2 separate regions of the Homo sapiens genome follow, and region 1 is linked to region 2. Evidence: fine-mapped expression QTL. A gene starts in region 2. The other region holds a variant in brackets. All regions are shown on one strand. Distances are from middle to middle.

Region 1 (8,326 bases), 62 kb after region 2:
AGGAAGCAGCAGGCTGGGTCTGGGAGAGAATGTAGGCCGTGAAGGACTGAGGCTGAGCCAGGCTGAGGCCAAGCTAGCAGGTGTTCCATCAAAGGCCCAGGGCACACTCACAGCTCAGTCTCCATATCTATTCGGATCTGCAGCTGGGCACGGTGGAGGCGCTCCAAGATGTGCTGGATGTCCTCTGTGGGCAGGGAGGACGAGGTAGACAGCCAGCTTAGCAGACAGCTGCTCAGCCCGCCCCACCTTTGAGGGTTCCCAGCCTTACCCACGAGGTACTGGCATTGTTGAGAATAGACGCGGATCACACCGATCTGAAGTTGGGCTGAGAGATAGAGGGAGAAGCGGGGCCGCGGCAGGCCGGGCTGCGGGGGTTGCACTCGTACCAGCACGTAATTGAGGATTTCCTCGCTGGGGAACAATGCGCCCTGATTACCGCTGCGTCCAGGAGTGGGCCCACAGTCTTGGCCACCCCATCCCCTAACTCACCCCCCGCACCAGGCCCTCCTTCCCTTTTCTGGGCCTTACCAGGTTTTCACCACATTCACCCTCAGGTATTCGCGCTTCACCAACCGGCTGCCGCGAGTCGCCGCCAGCCTGAAGTGGGTGGGGAAGGTGGGAGAATGGGGATGGAGGGGGAGCTGTCAGGCTGGGATCCCGGGCAGCGTCCGCCATCGCGCGCCAACGGGCCCCGCCCTTACCAGATGGTGGCAAAGCAGCCGGTGTGGCGCTGAAGCACGTTGGGATAGTAGAACATTGTCCCTCTGGTCTTTCACCCTCGATTCCACCAGATCCCCGTTCGGATCTGAGTCGGAATTCTTTAGGGCACAGAATTCCCAACACCTTGGAGAGAAGTCAGGATTTGGACTTCTCTGGTGGCAAGGTGGGTGCACCTAGAAAGCCAAGTTAATGAGGCAACGAACAATGGGCAGATACACAATTACCAGGATAACTGAGACGCAGGAGATGGGCGCCCCTCTCTGTGGACCCTCAGTGGATCCGCACGCCACGTGATGCGTCAAACTTGAGACTTCTGGGTTGGGTTCCAGGTTGGAGATGCAGAGCTCCAAGGGGACGTCCGGGCCGGAATCCAGAGCAGGTCCCGAGGGAGCACGGTGTCCTCCACAGCAGGCCTCGGTCCTCGAGCGCTGGGAGCGATGTCAGGCCCCTGGGCCTTGCACTGGCTTGGGCGGCCGCGGTGTGGCCCCGGGCCGCCTACTGCAGGACTAGATCGCACCGCGGGAAGCGAGCGCTTCGGGGCACCGCACCTCGCTCCTCATTAGATGGCGGCTTTTGCCCTGACAGCCAATGGGGAACGGGGGTCGGGTCGGGAACGCCAAGTATCCTGGCAACAGGGTCTCCCGAGGCAGCCAGCAAACCAATCATAAGGATTTTGCGCGCCGCTGGGGTCCATTGTGAGGTGTTCCGACCAATGGGCTCCGGTTCTCGCCTCTAGTAACAGGCGCCCCTTCCTTGACCAATGAGCGCATCCCCGTCGCTCCCCCGCCGCTCCCCCGCCGCAAGCCTGGCAACAAGGGCGCCTCAATTGGTAGGGGAGGTCGGGTCACCTCGGGGGCAACTGTACTGGGCCTCTTCCGGGTGCCAAGATGTACCTTGCACGGCGCCTGACCTGAGGTTAGACCCCGCCCTTCCCCCAATCCACAAACTCCGACTTTGTTTCCAACTAGGGCGTGTCGTGTGCTGCAGAGGAAGAAAGATGTGAGATGAGGCCGGGCGCAGTGGCTCACGCCTGTAATCCTAGCACTTTGGGAGGCCGAGGCGGGCGGATCATGAGGTTAGGAGTTCGAGTCCAGCCTGACCAATATGGTGAAACCCCGTCTCTATTAAAAATGCAAAAGTTAGCTGGGCGTGGTGGCACGCGCCTGTAATCCCAGCTACTCAGGAGGCTGAGGCAGGAGAATGCTTGAACCTGGGAGGCGGAGGTTGCAGTGAGCCGAGATCATGCAGCTCCACTCCAACCTGGGCAAGGGAGCAAGACTCCGTCTCAAAAAAAAAAAAAAAAAAAAAGGCTGTGAGATGATGGCCTTGGAGCCACCACAGGTCAATGAGGAAGAAGTCCATTTTTTTTTTTTTTGATGGCCTTGGAGCCACCACAGGTCAATGAGGAAGAAGTCCATTTTTTTTTTTTTTTTTTGAGATGGAGGCTCTCACTGTTGCCCAGGCTGGAATGCAGTGGCGCTATCTCGGCAATCTCGGCTCACTGCATCCTCTGCCCCCCATCCCCTCAGGTTCAAGCGATTCTCGTGTCTTGGCCTCCTGAGTAGCTGGGATTACAGGCGCCCTCCATCACACCCAACTAATTTTTGCATTTTTAGAAGAGACGGGATTTCACTATGTTGGCCAGGCTGGTTTCTTTTTTTTTTGAGATGGAGTTTCACTCTGTCACCCAGGCTGGAGTGCAGTGGCGCAGTCTCAGCTCATTGCAGCCTCCGCCTCCCCGGTGCAGGGGATTCTCCTGCCTCAGGCTCCCGAGTAGCTGGGATTACAGGCGCCCACCACCACACCTGGCTAAATTTTGTATTTTTTAGTAGAGACAGGGGTTTCACCATGTTGGCCAGGCTGGTCTCGAACTCCTGACCTCAGGTGATCCGCCCGCCTTGGCCTCCCAAAGTGCTGGGATTACAGGCGTGAGCCACTGCCCCCAGCTGAAGAAGTCAATCTTACACGAAACTCCGAAAGGACTTACTGGGGTCACTTCCTAAATCTGAACAACTTAGGTTATGGGCACGCCACGTGTGGTCCTTTCCCAGCTGTCAGTGTTCTCCCGGCTGAAATAGACTTTAGCATTTTTGGATGCAGCACAACTTCCTAGCCTGGAAAAGCCATATTCTCAACAATTATTGTGTAAATTTAAGAGGTACAGTTGTAATAATAACCCTTGTCCCTATGCCTCCTACCTTTGCACAGCCATTTCTTTGGCCTAGAATGTCCTTCTCTGCCTTGACTCCAGAGCATGCTTCTTCCTGAGACTTATATCTTACTGCAGCTGAGCTGACCCTATCTTCTTACAGTCCCCTTCAATTTGAGAGTTTTTTTTTTTTTTTTTTTTTTTTTTTTCTGAGATGGAATTTTGCTTGTCGCCCAGGCTGGAGTGCAATGGACCATCTTGGCTCAGTGCAACCTCCGCCTCCTGGGTTCAAGCAATTCTCCTACCTAAGCCTCCTGAGTAGCTGGGACTACAGGCATGTGCCACTATGCCTGGCTAATTTTTTTGTATTTTTAGTAGAGACAGGGTTTCAACCATGTTGGCCAGGCTGGTCTCAAACTCCTGACCTCAGGTGACACCCGCCTCGGCCTCTCAAATTACATGCCTATAGTCACAGCTACTCAGAAGGCTGAGACAGGAGGATCGATTGAGCCGAAGGTCGAGGCTGCAGTGAGCCATGATTGCACTGCTGTGCTCCAGCATGGGCGATTCTGTCAAAAAAAAAAAAAAAAAGAAAGAAAGAAAAAAAGAAATACATGAAGTGGCCGTAAGTGCTATGAAGAAAATGAGGCAGCATAGGAGGATAGAATAATGACGGCTGCTATTTAGGGAGGGTACTCAGGGAAGCCTTGCCCCCTCTCTTAAGAGATAAAATTTGAAGAATGTGGGTAAGTCATGTGCCTACCTGAAGGAAGAGTAATTTAGACAAAAGAACCAGCAAATGCAAAGACCCTGAGGTAGAAATGTGTTTGGTGGGTTCAAGGAGCCTGGAGCAAAGTGACAGGGGAAGAATGGCAAGGGGCGAGAGAGAGAGAGAGAGGAGGGTAGGGTCGCATCACAGGACCTCAGAGGTCCTTATGGGGATTTGGGCTTTTACCCTGGGTGATTTGGGACCCACTGGAAGGTTCTGAGCAGAGGAGTGACATGATCAGAATTACATGTGAAAAGAATCTCTACTGTGTTGAGAATAGCTTAAGGTAGACACGTGTGGAAACAGATGTGAAGGAAGCAGAGGA[G/A]GAGACATGAGAGATGGTGGTAGTTTGTTCCAAAGTGTTGCTGATGGGAACAGAGAGAAGTGGTCAGACCCTGGATACATATTGAAGGAATAGCGAGCGACAGGATTTGCTGATGAATTGGATGTGGGGTATGATAGAAAACGGAAGGAGGCCAGGTATAGTAGCTCACACCTGTAATCCCAGCACTTTAGGAGGTCAAGTAGTTGGGACTATAGGCACACACCACCACACCTGGCTTTTTTTTTTCCCCCACTTTTTTTTTTTGAGATGGAGTTTCGCTCTTGATGCCCAGGCTTGGAATGCAATGGCACGATCTTGGCTCACTGCAACCTCTGCCTCCTGGGTTCAAGTGATTCTCCTGCCTCAGCCTCCCAAGTAGCTGGGATTATAGGCATGTGCCACCATGCCCAGCTGATTTTTTTTATATTTTTAGTAGAGATGGGGTTTCACCATGTTGGTCAGGCTGGTCTCGAACTTCTGACCTCAAGTGATCCACCCACCTGGGCCTTCCAAAGTGCAAGGATTACAGGTGTGAGCCACCATGCCTGGCCTCACCTGGCTAATTTTTAAGAATTTTTGGGAGCCAGGTGCAGTGGCTCACGCCTGTAATCCCAGCACTTTGGGAAGCTGAGGTGGGCAGATCACCTGAAGTCAGGAGTTCGAGACCAGCCTAGCCAACATGGTGAAACCCTGTCTCTACTAAAAATACAAAAATTAGCCTGGCATAGCGGTGCGCACCTGTAATCCCAGATACTCAGAAGGCTGAGGCAGGAGGATCACTTGAACCCAGGAGGTGGAGGTTGCAGTGAGCCAAGATTGCACTACTGCACTCCAGCCTGGGCAACAGAGTGAGACTCTGTCTCAAAAAAAAAAAAAAGAATTTTTTGTAGAAGTAGGGTTTCACTATGTCACCCAGGCTAGTCTCAAACTCCTGGGCTAAGGCAGTCTTCTCACTTCGATCTCCCAAAGTGCCAGGATTACAGACATAAACCACCACGCCCAGCCGAAAAAAAAAATTTTTTTTTTTTGAGATGGAGTTTTGCTCTTTTTGCCCAGGCTCGAGTGCAGTGGTGCAATCTCGGCTCACTGCAACCTCCGCCTCCTGGGTTTAAGCGATTCTCCTGCCTCAGGCTCCCAAGTAGCTGGGATTACAGGTGTCCACCAACACGCCTGGCTAATTTTTTGCATTTTTAGTAGAGACGGGGTTTCACCATGTTGGCCAGGCTGGTCTCGAACTCCTGACGTCAGGTGATCCACCCACCTCGGCCTCTCAAATTACTGGGATTCCAGGTGTGAGCCACAATGCCCAGCCAAGTTTTTGTTTTTAATCAAAATAATTAAAATAAAATGGAAGTCAAGGAGATAATTTAGACCTTGTACAAAGAAGGTCCAGGAAGGATTTCATCACATTGCATCACATTGAGGGCACAACAGGGTTTGTACACCTCTGCATTCAGTACCTCATTTCTTCACTGCTAGTGCAGAGAATGTCTAGGTGCTTGGCTTCCCAGTGGGATGATGGACAAGACTGAAGGGAAGAAGGGAGGTCCATGGAGGCAGGGAGGCTCAAAGGCAGCACTGAAGCTTGTCAAATGAGGCAGCAAGAAGGTCCTAGGAAGACTTAGGCATCCAGATTTGATCATGTGTGTGAACCATTGAGGGCTGAAGGGTGAAATGACAGAAGGAAGTCTGGAAAGCTAAGCTGGTGTCATATGCAGGAAGAAGGAAGCTGAAGGCTGTGGCCTGGGTTGGAACTAGTTTGCTGGAAGTGAGTGTACAAAAAAGTAGGTGACAAGTGGCCTTGTGGTGAAGGAAAAACTTCCAGTTTCGTAGTAAAATGAACATGGGGGAAAGAAGAGTGTCAGCCAATTTGGAGCCCTCAAGTCTCATGAACAGCATGACATGGCAGTCTAGGCCGGAGTGCTTTTTTTTTTTTTCTTTTTTAATCTTGAGACAGAGTCTCGCTCTTGTTGCCCAGGCTGGAGTACAATAGCACGATCTTGGCTCACTGCAACCTCCGCCTCCCGGGTTCAAGCGATTCTCCTGCCTCAGCCTCCCAAGTAGCTGAGATTACAGGTGCCCGCCACCAGGCCTGGCTAATTTTTGTATTTTTAGAAGAGACGCTGTTTCACCGTGTTGGCCAGGCTGGTCTCGAACTCCTGATCTCAAGTGATCCACCCACCTTGGCCTCCCAAAGTGCTGGGATTATAGGTGTGAGCCACTGCGCCCAGCCGGCCAGAGTGTCTTTTATGGGGCTTAGATAGAGCAAGGAATCCAGTTTGGGAGTACCCTGCTGGGGTGACAGTGAAATTGTGCTGGAGGAAGAGGTGCCAGTAACAGCAGGTACAGTTTCAGCAACTCTTCTCTCTGACTCCTCTGTTCTCAGGTCCCAGGGCCTCTAGACCATAGTTTCAGGTCACCCTCAAGTGTCTCCTCTTCATTTAGACCTCCAATCTAACTAACCTCAGGCCCGATGTTGGGGCCTTCTAGCAAGAACTGTGGAGCCCAGACTTTACCATGTGAAGTTGGTGGCTATAGTGCCTGGCTGAAGGCTTGGTGCCCAACCCACACCCTAATCTTATCTGCCCAGAGGGTACCTCTGTAGAGTGCCAGGCCCAGGACCCACAGGGCCCAGGCAGCATCTTAGCCAGAACCTGTGGGCAGAGGAGAGGAAAGAGGCTGGAGATGTCAGCAGGAAGAGAACCCCAGTGCCCCACTCTTAAGTTTACATCTCTATCTGTGACCACTGCTACCTTCTTCTCCCAGAAAATCAGATACTGATTCCTCTTTCAATAAAATTTTATTTTAAGTCCTTAGTGAATATCTAAGAGGAAAATATAAAGTGCTTGGCTTTAGAGTTGGGAGGTCAGGGAAGAGGGAAAGGCCCCCTGGGTTCACACCATTTGGAATTTCCTAGTCCCTTACAGATGAAAGAGGGCGTATATCTCAAAATTAAAAAAAAAAAAGGATAAAAAATTAGCCTTGAGTTCTCCACCAGCCAGTGTGTGCGAGGATTTTCAGGACACGATTATCACGGACAACTACTGAGAATTATCACAAAGAGGACAGGTCAATCGTGTGAAGAATGAGTCTACTTCAAAGGAGACAGGAAGAACAAAGAGGTGAGGTGGAAGATGGGTCCCCCAGGCTCTACACCAGGGACAGAATGGCTGCCTGCTGCTCTGGAGTCTGCTCCAGCAAGTATCGGGCAAAGGCCTGCTCCATCTGTATTGGAAGAGATGGAGAAGAGCATCTCAGTGCGTGCATCAGGGACAGACACCACCCCCAGGAGCTCCTTCCCCACTGGGAGACCCCCTTTGCCTCCTGGAGCACCACTGTCTCTGCTCTCATTAGATGGGTACTCTACCCCTGCTCCGAGCTCACCTTCACTGTGATAAGATTCTGTGGAGTATGGCTGGAGCCATGGCTCTCTTCCCAGAAATTCAGTGTTACCTGGAACTTCGGTGGGGGGCCCAGGCCCTGAAAGTACCTGACCAAGTCTGAAAGAGAAAGGGTCAAGGGTTCGAAGAACAAAAAGAAGAGAGAGGGCCACAGGCAGGGAGGCAATAGTGAGGAACCCATGATGGAGAGAGGTAGGAGGGGGTCTTGCCAGAGCAGGAGCTGCAAGGTCAGAAGTACTTGGAACTAAGTGCTACTCACCCATGTGCAAATAGGAAAGGGTGCCCCTGCCTCATATAAGTGCTTAGAAGTAGCAGATCACAGCACAGCCCGACAAGCTCTCTGCTGGGAGAGTTTAGAGTCCTCCCAGGTAGCAGCCCTGGCTGCTAACTCAGATGTGCCCAGACCTTTGCTACTTGCTCACATCCTCCCAGTGCTAGGGCACCCATGGCCCTGGGAACACCCACACTCTGCACCCCCTGTACACCTGGTCCCACTCTTAAGGTCAGGTTTAGAATTGAGTAGGAGCTGGAATTGGATGGGAGAGAAGCGCAACCCTAAGGCATGCCTGGAGTGTGGTAAAGACGGTGCAGCCAGGGCCAGTGTGTGTGATGTGTGCCAGCTCTCCCAAATGTGTGTACGTAGGAGAAGGCCATGAGGCTCAAAATCTCTGTGCCAATTCTTCTGTGCACCTTCACATAGTGACTGCATGCTTCAGTGTGATGGTGTTCTCCAAGATATGACACTCTTGTGCTGGGCTCTACCTGAACCACCTCTTCCATTGTCTTGGCTGGAGGAGAGCTGCCAGGTAGCTGCCAGGCTGGGCATATGGCCACACAGGATATGCAACACACAAGCGCAGGAGTGCCATGCATAGGCTACATGGAGGATCTGCTGGCAGATAGGGAGGTAGCAGGACCCAACAAGTTGGGCCCAGGGGGTACTAAGAGGTAGGGGGTGGAAG
Region 2 (8,279 bases):
GATCTGGGTTGGATTTCATCTGCCAGCACATTCACTGCTTCTGACTTAAAAGGTGACAAGCTGCTGGTGCAGTGGGACAGGCAGCAGACATGAAAGAACCATGAAGAAGCTGGATGGAGCCTGTGTTTCTCTGCACTGACTCAGCCCCTCCTCCTAAGGTAACCTAGTACTAAACTATTTTTGGTTATGTTCTCGTTCATTTACCAGCAGTAATTCAGTAGATCTGGATGCTCACCAAAGGTAATGCCTTAAGGTTGATAAGAGCTGATAAGGGGCTACCCTACCCTGTCTCCATCTCTAGTGGAAAAAAGGACAAATTTCCTAGTTGGGGACATGGATCAAGCTAAAAAATCTGTTTCATTCAGTCCATTTTAATAAAGTTCAAGGACATAATGACTCATCAAACTCATATTCTCTAGCTCAACAGATTGCAAACAATATCCCAATACTTTGAGGAAGGCATTCAAAGGCCATTGTGTATGCTGGTGTTTGTGCCTTACATGTCTACATGCAAACAGACAAGAGACAGCAGTTGGCTGAAACAGCACAAATCTTGCAACTAACAAGAAACCCAAGGAAGTCATGTATTAGCTAGCAACAAGTGCTCTACATACGTACTCAGAGATCAACAATATCTAGCTAAAGCTGGTATTGAATTCTGCTTTCTCAACAACTCTATCATCAACATACTGATAAGCAAAGAAAAGTCACCATAGGATAGGAAGTCAGCAGATGTTGGAGATATACTGGCAGAGTGTGGCATGATGAGCACATCAGATTACATACCAAACTTAGAAAAAGATGTTTGCTTGCATCCAACCTTTTTATTACAGTAAGACTTGGCTCTTATCTCTAAAACCTGATTTCTTTACCTCTCGTCAGCAATACTGAAAGCCAGGCTCCACATAAAGCATCAAGACAGTCCCCAAAAAGGTTCATGTATTACAGCACGCCTGTTAACTCTGCAGTCAGAGTCACCAATTCTGAACTCTACTGGTCAGGGCAGATGGACAGTGGGCAACAGAAAGATTCCTAAGCAGTTACTGAATGGCAATAAAAATAAAGTAAAAATAAAACTGCATAACTATCAACCTTAAAGAAATGACAAGACATTCCACAAAGACACAGCAATCAAAAATAGAAAAAGGATATGAAGTCCTTAAGACTAATGGAGCCACAAACAATAGCAGAATTCATCAACCAGGGCTACATGGATCAACCAGCAGAGTGCATATGTTCTCAAAGTGCCCAGATAACTCTCTACCTTCTCAGCAACAAGTATAGAGGCAGGTAATAGTACTGACAGGAGCAGCATCTTCCATTTCAAAGTGAACAACTTGTATATAAGAAAAACACATCCCATTTGGGGCACATCCCAGAAACTCCCAGGAACCTAGGACTTAAAGAAGAGGAAGATTAAAAAAAGAATGGCAGAAGTATTCTTTTATTAATGAATTGTTCTTATTAAAGAAAATTAATAAGCTGCTTCTCCTAGGATCTTCTAGTTAGGATTTTTGAATGCTTAAACTGTAGTTTCTGGACTAAAACAGTGAATGCTTAATGTGGACAATCGCATAACTGAAGGGATGCATGTGACTGTGAGGGGGTGACCTGGGTGGTGGGAAAAGTTGGCAAGGTGTACAAACTGCTAAACAGGACAAAAGGGAAAATTCTGTTCATATATCAGAAATATCGGAGCAGAACTTAGCTTTGAATCTCACTAATTCAGATGGCCTTTTGAACTTATCAGATAAAGGGCTTCAGTAGTGGAAAAAACCGTAAATCAGAGCATCCTGACTGCTAACTGCCAGAGAACTGACTGGGCATGGGGGTGGGGATGCAAACACCTCTGCAGTCAGCTGGGCTAACTGGACACCAATAGGGATGGGGCATGAGGAAAGCCCTACCTTACAGAGAACCTTGGCCATCTCAAAGGTGCCCACAGTATCCATATTGGCAGCAATGATGGGAACCCCAGAGTATGTCTGCTTTGAGTTCCGAAATGAAAAGGATCTTGTGAGATCCACCTGCAGATATGAACAGGAAATTGACCATTTCATTAATCCAAAAAACGTACCATATTAGGACAAGGACAGGCATCTTTCTTGGTTGTGGCCCACCGGGAGCGTGGGGTCAAGAAACAGCAAGTAGAGAAGCTTGCTCACCTCACTTCGAGACTTAAGGGTACTGCGTTTGGGCCTCAAAAGGACATCCTTGAAGTCCAGTTTCACATCGTTGTCAATATGAGGCATGGCGCTTAGCCTCGGGGTAGCGATGAATCTGAGGGCTGGAAGGCAGGAAGTCATAAGGACCAATCTTCCCCTGGGCTTTAACGCCCTGTTACGGCTGGTGGCCTCTCTTCGCTTAAGTTGTGGAAGGTCGGGCAAAGGCCGAAGTGTGGTCCCTGAAGCCTGTCACCTCGACCCATCCCGTGGCTGCGATTACCCTAGGGCTCCATCCCAGGTACTGTTTGTTGGGGAGGAGAGCTGGGAAAGGGTTGTGAGAGACCCTGACGGTGCATTCCTTACCCCGCTACACTTCCTTCTTCTACCCCTGCAAAGAGCAATGGGGCAAGAGGCTGATTTAGGGGAACGAAGGAATGTTGGCGACGGGGGGCGGGGAGGGTTCATAACTAGTTTCCGGAATAGAGGTACTCACTTCCTGTTGCCTTGGTCCAGGCGGCAGTTGACCAAAGACCACCTTGCTTAGCAACTAACCTCGTGCAATCCCGCTAAGCCTTCTGGGCCACGCCAACAGGTTCCTCTAGTTGCCGGCGAGAACTACTAGCCGACGAATTCCAGCTTCGGCGGCGGCAGGGCGAGGCCTTCTGGATAACAGAGTTCACGCACTGAGGTTGCTGTTGGATCCGAGGGGGTTAGACTACAACTCCCAGGGGGAAACGGGCGGGACCGCCTCCTGGCACGATGGGAGATGTAGTTCGTTCTGCCCCCACTTTTCGCTAGCCCGGGCTCGCCAGGGACTCTCAGAATCGCAGAGTCGTCATCTCTGCTGTTGCTAAACTGGATGCCTCATTCCAATTTACGACGTCACTGAACCGAAACGCGGGAGCAACCCTGAGCCTTTCCGGAACCCAGTGGGGGGGGGGGGGGGGGTGGAGCCAGACAGTGACCCGGAAGTAGAAGTGGCCCTTGCAGGCAAGAGTGCTGGAGGGCGGCAGCGGCGACCGGAGCGGTAGGAGCAGCAATTTATCCGTGTGCAGCCCCAAACTGGAAAGAAGATGCTAATTAAAGTGAAGGTGGGAGCACCTCCAGCCTTGCCAAGACGCAGTAGTACTGGGCTGGCAGCAGTGCCTTACGGGAGACGTGGGGAAGGAAAACCACGCCTTTCCCTAGCCTGGAGGACGCTGACTGCCTCAGGGCTCCGCGCGAGGGGTGGTGGGAAATAGGGGGACCCAGAAGGGCTTTGAGAGCGGGGCCCAGGTCCCACCTGACGACCCTGGGGTATTTTGCCATGCCTGCTTTTTTGCCAGGACTGTGCTATCACCCAGAATGGGGTCGCTTTTGTCGGGTCTCACTGTATTCGAACCCCCGCAGTCATAGAGAAGGCCTAGCAGCGGCTTGACTCCCCCGTCTCTCAGATTCTTGGAGTAAGCGCTGCTCTCCATTCTTCATTCCCAGGGTACCTGCTTCTCCCAGTCCCTAACGTAGGTCGCCTCCGAGCACAGCCCTAAAATCGGGGCCTCCCAAGGGCTAGACTATGAGCCTTTACTGGTGGTTGCCAAGGTGTGGTATCTCACCCGTCCTACAGGAACCAAAGCGGGGAGTGTGTTCAGTCAGTACCTGCCTTTCTGAGCCTGGCATCCTGGACCAGCCTCACTTCCTTGGCTGAGGCAGGTTAGTTACCGCTGCCCTAGTTCTTGCTACTAGCCATGGTTTCCTTCATCTGCATCTCTCAACTCCCGTGGTGGTTCTTCACCAATTTCCAGCCCTCGTTAGTCCTATCTGCTGTTTCCTCTTTTGTGCCTTCAGACAGACAGAGACCCCCCCCCCCACGCCCCCCTCAAAAAAACAAAACTGCTGACAAGTGAAGTCTAATGCTAGTTTGGCCTTTTTGTAGCTAAGTAAATCTATCGTTATTTCATCAGCTTCTTAGCATATTTACCGTACATAATAGTCATTCTTAACCTTCTCTTCCCCAGTCCTTCCAAACTACTTCTTAGCTAAGATTTGAGGTCTAGTATTAAAATAGTATGTTAAAGATGATTTTTTTTAACGTTGAGTAGCGGCCTATATAAGAGTCGTAACATCAATTTAATAGGTGAATGGGTCACTGGCGCCATTAAAAAGAGAAAATAGGCTGGGCGCGGTGGCTCACGCCTGTAATCCCAGCACTTTGGAAGGCCGAGGCAGGCCGATCGCTTGAGCCCAGGAGTTGGAGACCATCCTGGGCAACATGGCGAAACCCTGCCTGTACAATAAATTCAAAAAATTAGCCAAGGGTCTGGGCGCATGCCTGTAGGCCCAGCTATTCGGGAGGCCGAGATGGGAGGATTGATTGATCCTGGGATGTCGAAGCCGCGGTGAGCAGTGATGGCACCACTGCACTCCAGACCCTGCCTGAAAAAAAAGGCCGGGCCCAGTGGCTCACGCCTGTAATCCCAGCACTTTGGGAGGCCGAGGTGGGTGGATCACCTAAGGTGAGGAGTTCAAGACCAGCCTGGCCAACATGGTGAAACCCCGCCTCTACTAACAATACAAAAACTAGCCGGGCGTGGTGGTGGGCGCCTATAATCCCAGCTACTCGGAGGCTAAGGCAGGAGAATCCCTTGAACCTGGGAGGCGGAGATTGCAGTGAGCTGAGATGGCGCCATTGCACTCCAGCCTGGGCGACAAGAGTGAAACTCCATCTCCCCCTGCAAAAAAAAAAAAGAAAGAGAGAGGGGGAGAAAATAGGAAATAATATAGTGCTAGGTAAGGATATTGTTTTATGATTTTTTTTTTTTTTTTTTTTGAGACAGAGTCTCGCTCTGTCGCCCAGGCTGGAGTGCAGTGGCGCCATCTCGGCTCACTGCAAGCTTCGCCTCCCGGGTTCATGCCATTCTCCTGCCTCAGCCTCCCGAGTAGCTGGGACTACAGGCGCCTGCCACCACGCCCAGCTAATTTTTTTGTATTTTTAGTAGAGACAGGGTTTCACCATGTTAGCCAGGATGGTCTCGATCTCCTGACCTCGTGATCCGCCCGCCTCTGCCTCCCAAAGTGCTGGGATTACAGGTGTGAGCCACCCTCCCCCGTGCCTGGCCTTTTTTTTTTTTTTTTTTTTTTTTTTTGAGACAGAGTCTCACTCTGTTGCCAGGCCTGAAATTTTTTATTTTATTTTATATGTATATTACACAGGGGGTGTTACTAGTTCATACTAATTTTTAGAATGGATCACTGTCAAAATCTTGAGAAACACTAACTGTTGAATATTTTTATTTGAGACGGAGTCTCCCTCTGTCACCAGGCTGGAGTGCAGTGGCGCAATGTCGGCTCACTGCAACCTCCGCCTCCCGGGTTCAAGCGATTCTCCTGCCTCAGCTTCCTGACTAGCTGGGACTACAGGGTGTGCCACCACGCCCAGCTAATTTTTGTATTTTTAGTAGAAACGGGGTTTCACCAGGTTGGCCAGGATGGTATCGATCTCTTGACCTAGTGATCCGCTCACCTCCGCCTAAAGTGTTGAGATTACAGTCATGAGCCACCGCGCCCGGCCTGTTGAATACTTCTGTTGGCTTTTCAATGCATATGGGTTCTCATGTCCACTAGGTCCAAAGAAGTTAAGTTACTAATGCTAAGTGTTTTGTACACTTTTTGAAAATTTCACTCCACATTAAGAAATTTTATGTCACAACCCATAAGGCACAAAAACTTTGCTATTTGTGATATGCTCTCAGACTTTCAATTCTAAGTTGATTTCATAACCCACTGATGGGTTGAGACCTGCCCACTGATGGGTTGAGACCTGCAGTTTAAAAAGTACTGTTTGAAAGGCCAGGCGTGGTGGCTCACGCCTGTAATCCCAGCACTTTGGGAGGCCAAGGCGGGCGGATCACGAGGTCAGGAGTTCAAGACCAGCCTGGCCAACATGGTGAAACCCCGTCTCTACTAAAAATACAAAAATTAGCCGAGTGTGGTGGCACACACCTGTAGTCCCAGCCACTTGACAGGGTGAGGCAGGAGAATTGCTTGAACCTGGGAGGCAGAGGTTGCAGTGAGCCAAGATCGTGCCATTGCACTCCAGCCTGGGCAACAGAGTGAGACTGTCTCAAAAAATAAATAAATAAAATAACTGTTTGAACAAAAAAATCAATGCTGTGTGTGGAAACTTGAAAATACAGTGTCCTATCACCTGTGGTCTTGCTAAAATGCTGATTATGATTCTGTGGGTCTAAGGTGGGGCACAGGTTTCTGCATTTCTCACAAACTCCCAGGTGATATTGAATGTCTGAGAGCTACACTTTGAATAGCAAGATTCTAGATTTTTTCTGTTTCTTTGAATCCATATTTATGTGGTACTTCTCTAAAATTGCCAGTCTTCTTTCCTGCAACACCCTTCTGCCTTCAAACAGGCCTCTGTGCCCCATCTCTCTCTATCTCCCCCTCTCGCCCCATCCCCTCTTGTTTGTTGCATTTCTTAATTAAATACATAGGAAAGTAGTTACACATGAGATAGCTGTTAATCTGATCTGAAGAAAATATTAATTTAAAAAAGAAAAAAAAGAGCTGTTAATTACCATATAAGTGACATTTTTTATTACAGTTCCTTTTTTTTTTTTTTTTTTTTTTTGAGACAGGTTCTCACTCTGTCGCCCAGGCTTAGGGTGCAGTGGTGCCATCACAGCTTACTGCAGCCTCGACCTCTCAGGCCCAAGCAATTCTCCCATCTGAGCCTCCTGAGTAGCTGGGACTACAGGCGTGTGCTACCACCATACCCAGCCAATTGTTTTATTTTTTTGTAGAGATGCGGTCTCATCGTGTTGCCCACGCTAGTCTAAAACTTCTGGGGTCAAGTGATCTTCCCACCTCATCTTCCTAAAGTGCTGGGATTACAGCCGTGAGCTACCATATCTGACCCCTTTTTGAATTATTATTATTTTTGTTTTGTTTTGCTTTTGAGATGGAGTCTCACTCTGTCGCCCAGGCTGGAGTACAGTGGCACGATCTTGGCTCATTGCAACCTCCGCCTCTTGGGTTCAAGCGATGCTCCTGCCTCAGCCTCCCAAGTAGCTGGGACTACAAGTGCCCACCACCATACCCGGCTAACTTTTGTATTTTAGTAGAGACGGGGTTTCGCCATGTTTGCCAGGCTGGTCTTGAACGCCTGACCTGAGGTGATCCACCCACCTCAGCCTCCCAAAGTGCTGGGATTACAGGCATGAGCCACCGCGCCTGGCCTCATTTTGTTTTTGTTTTGAGACATTCTTACTCTGTCACCCAGGCTGGAGTGCAGTGGTATGATCTCGGCTCACTGCAACCTCCACCTCCCAGGCTCAAGGGATCCTCCCAACTCAGCCTCCCAAGTAGCTGGGACTACAGGTACATGCCACCACACCTGGCTGATTTTCTGTATTTTTAGTAGAGGTGGGGTTTCACCATGTTGCCCAGGCTGGTCTTGAACTCCTGAGCTCAAGTGATCCACCTGCCTTGGCCTCCCGAAGTGCTGGGATTACAGGCGTGAGCCACCATGCCCAGCCGAATGATTCATTTTCAACTGCTGTCTCTGTGTAGCTGACTTCTTCCATATTTTTCTATAAGATTTTACAATTAAATTCTTCCTGATTTAAATCTTGTTACCTTGTCTCTATGGTTCTAAAATTAAATGCATCATCTTCTGTCATAAGCCATATCCCAATACCCATCTCGTGTATTAATCCCATCAATCATTCAGGTGTCTGGAATACAATTCTTTAGAGTCATTTAAAATTACGTGGTCCTTTTATAAGATCTAATTTTTCACTTAAAAGCTCTTTCTGTTTGATTTTTGTTTCCATCTCCATTACCCTCATTCTGGTCTCGGGTCTTACTCATTTATATGTTTATGTCTCTGTAATACATCCAACCAGGTTTTCCTACCGTCATATCCCCTCTAAAGTGTAGTCTAAACCAAGACATGACGTACAAAACCATAATGTGCAGGTCTTCCTTTAGCTTCTTTTTCATTATATTACTCCCTAACCCCAGATCCTTCATTGATTTCCTCATTGCAGATTACTTTGGCAACTGTCTTTACTGTGTGAATCAGTTTTCTCATTCATGTTTTTTAACATACAGTAAAATGCA

What was found.
Region 1: its variant is fine-mapped to the expression of NEDD8 in whole blood (INTERVAL, PIP 0.95).

Annotation. Positions count from the first base shown.
Region 1 is chr14:24,164,984-24,173,309 of GRCh38, reverse strand. IRF9 (interferon regulatory factor 9) reads right to left here. Exons shown (of 9, transcript NM_006084.5): 8 at 7,348-7,463; 9 at 6,745-7,188. The coding sequence ends at 7,114. REC8 (REC8 meiotic recombination protein) reads right to left here and starts at 1,230. Exons shown (of 19, transcript NM_001048205.2): 1 at 702-1,230; 2 at 529-597; 3 at 269-411; 4 at 112-184; 5 at 1-19. The coding sequence starts at 757. RefSeq lists enhancers at 1,000-1,249, 1,318-1,818 and a silencer at 1,420-1,469. The variant G/A (reference allele first, on the strand shown) is at 3,964.
Region 2 is chr14:24,227,227-24,235,505 of GRCh38, reverse strand. It overlaps NEDD8 (NEDD8 ubiquitin like modifier), which reads left to right and starts at 3,139. Exons shown (of 4, transcript NM_006156.3): 1 at 3,139-3,256. The coding sequence starts at 3,239. It overlaps NEDD8-MDP1 (NEDD8-MDP1 readthrough), which reads left to right and starts at 3,139. Exons shown (of 7, transcript NM_001199823.3): 1 at 3,139-3,256. The coding sequence starts at 3,239. GMPR2 (guanosine monophosphate reductase 2) reads right to left here and starts at 2,577. Exons shown (of 10, transcript NM_001002002.3): 1 at 2,529-2,577; 2 at 2,166-2,287; 3 at 1,908-2,027. The coding sequence starts at 2,252. RefSeq lists enhancers at 2,949-3,243, 2,410-3,275.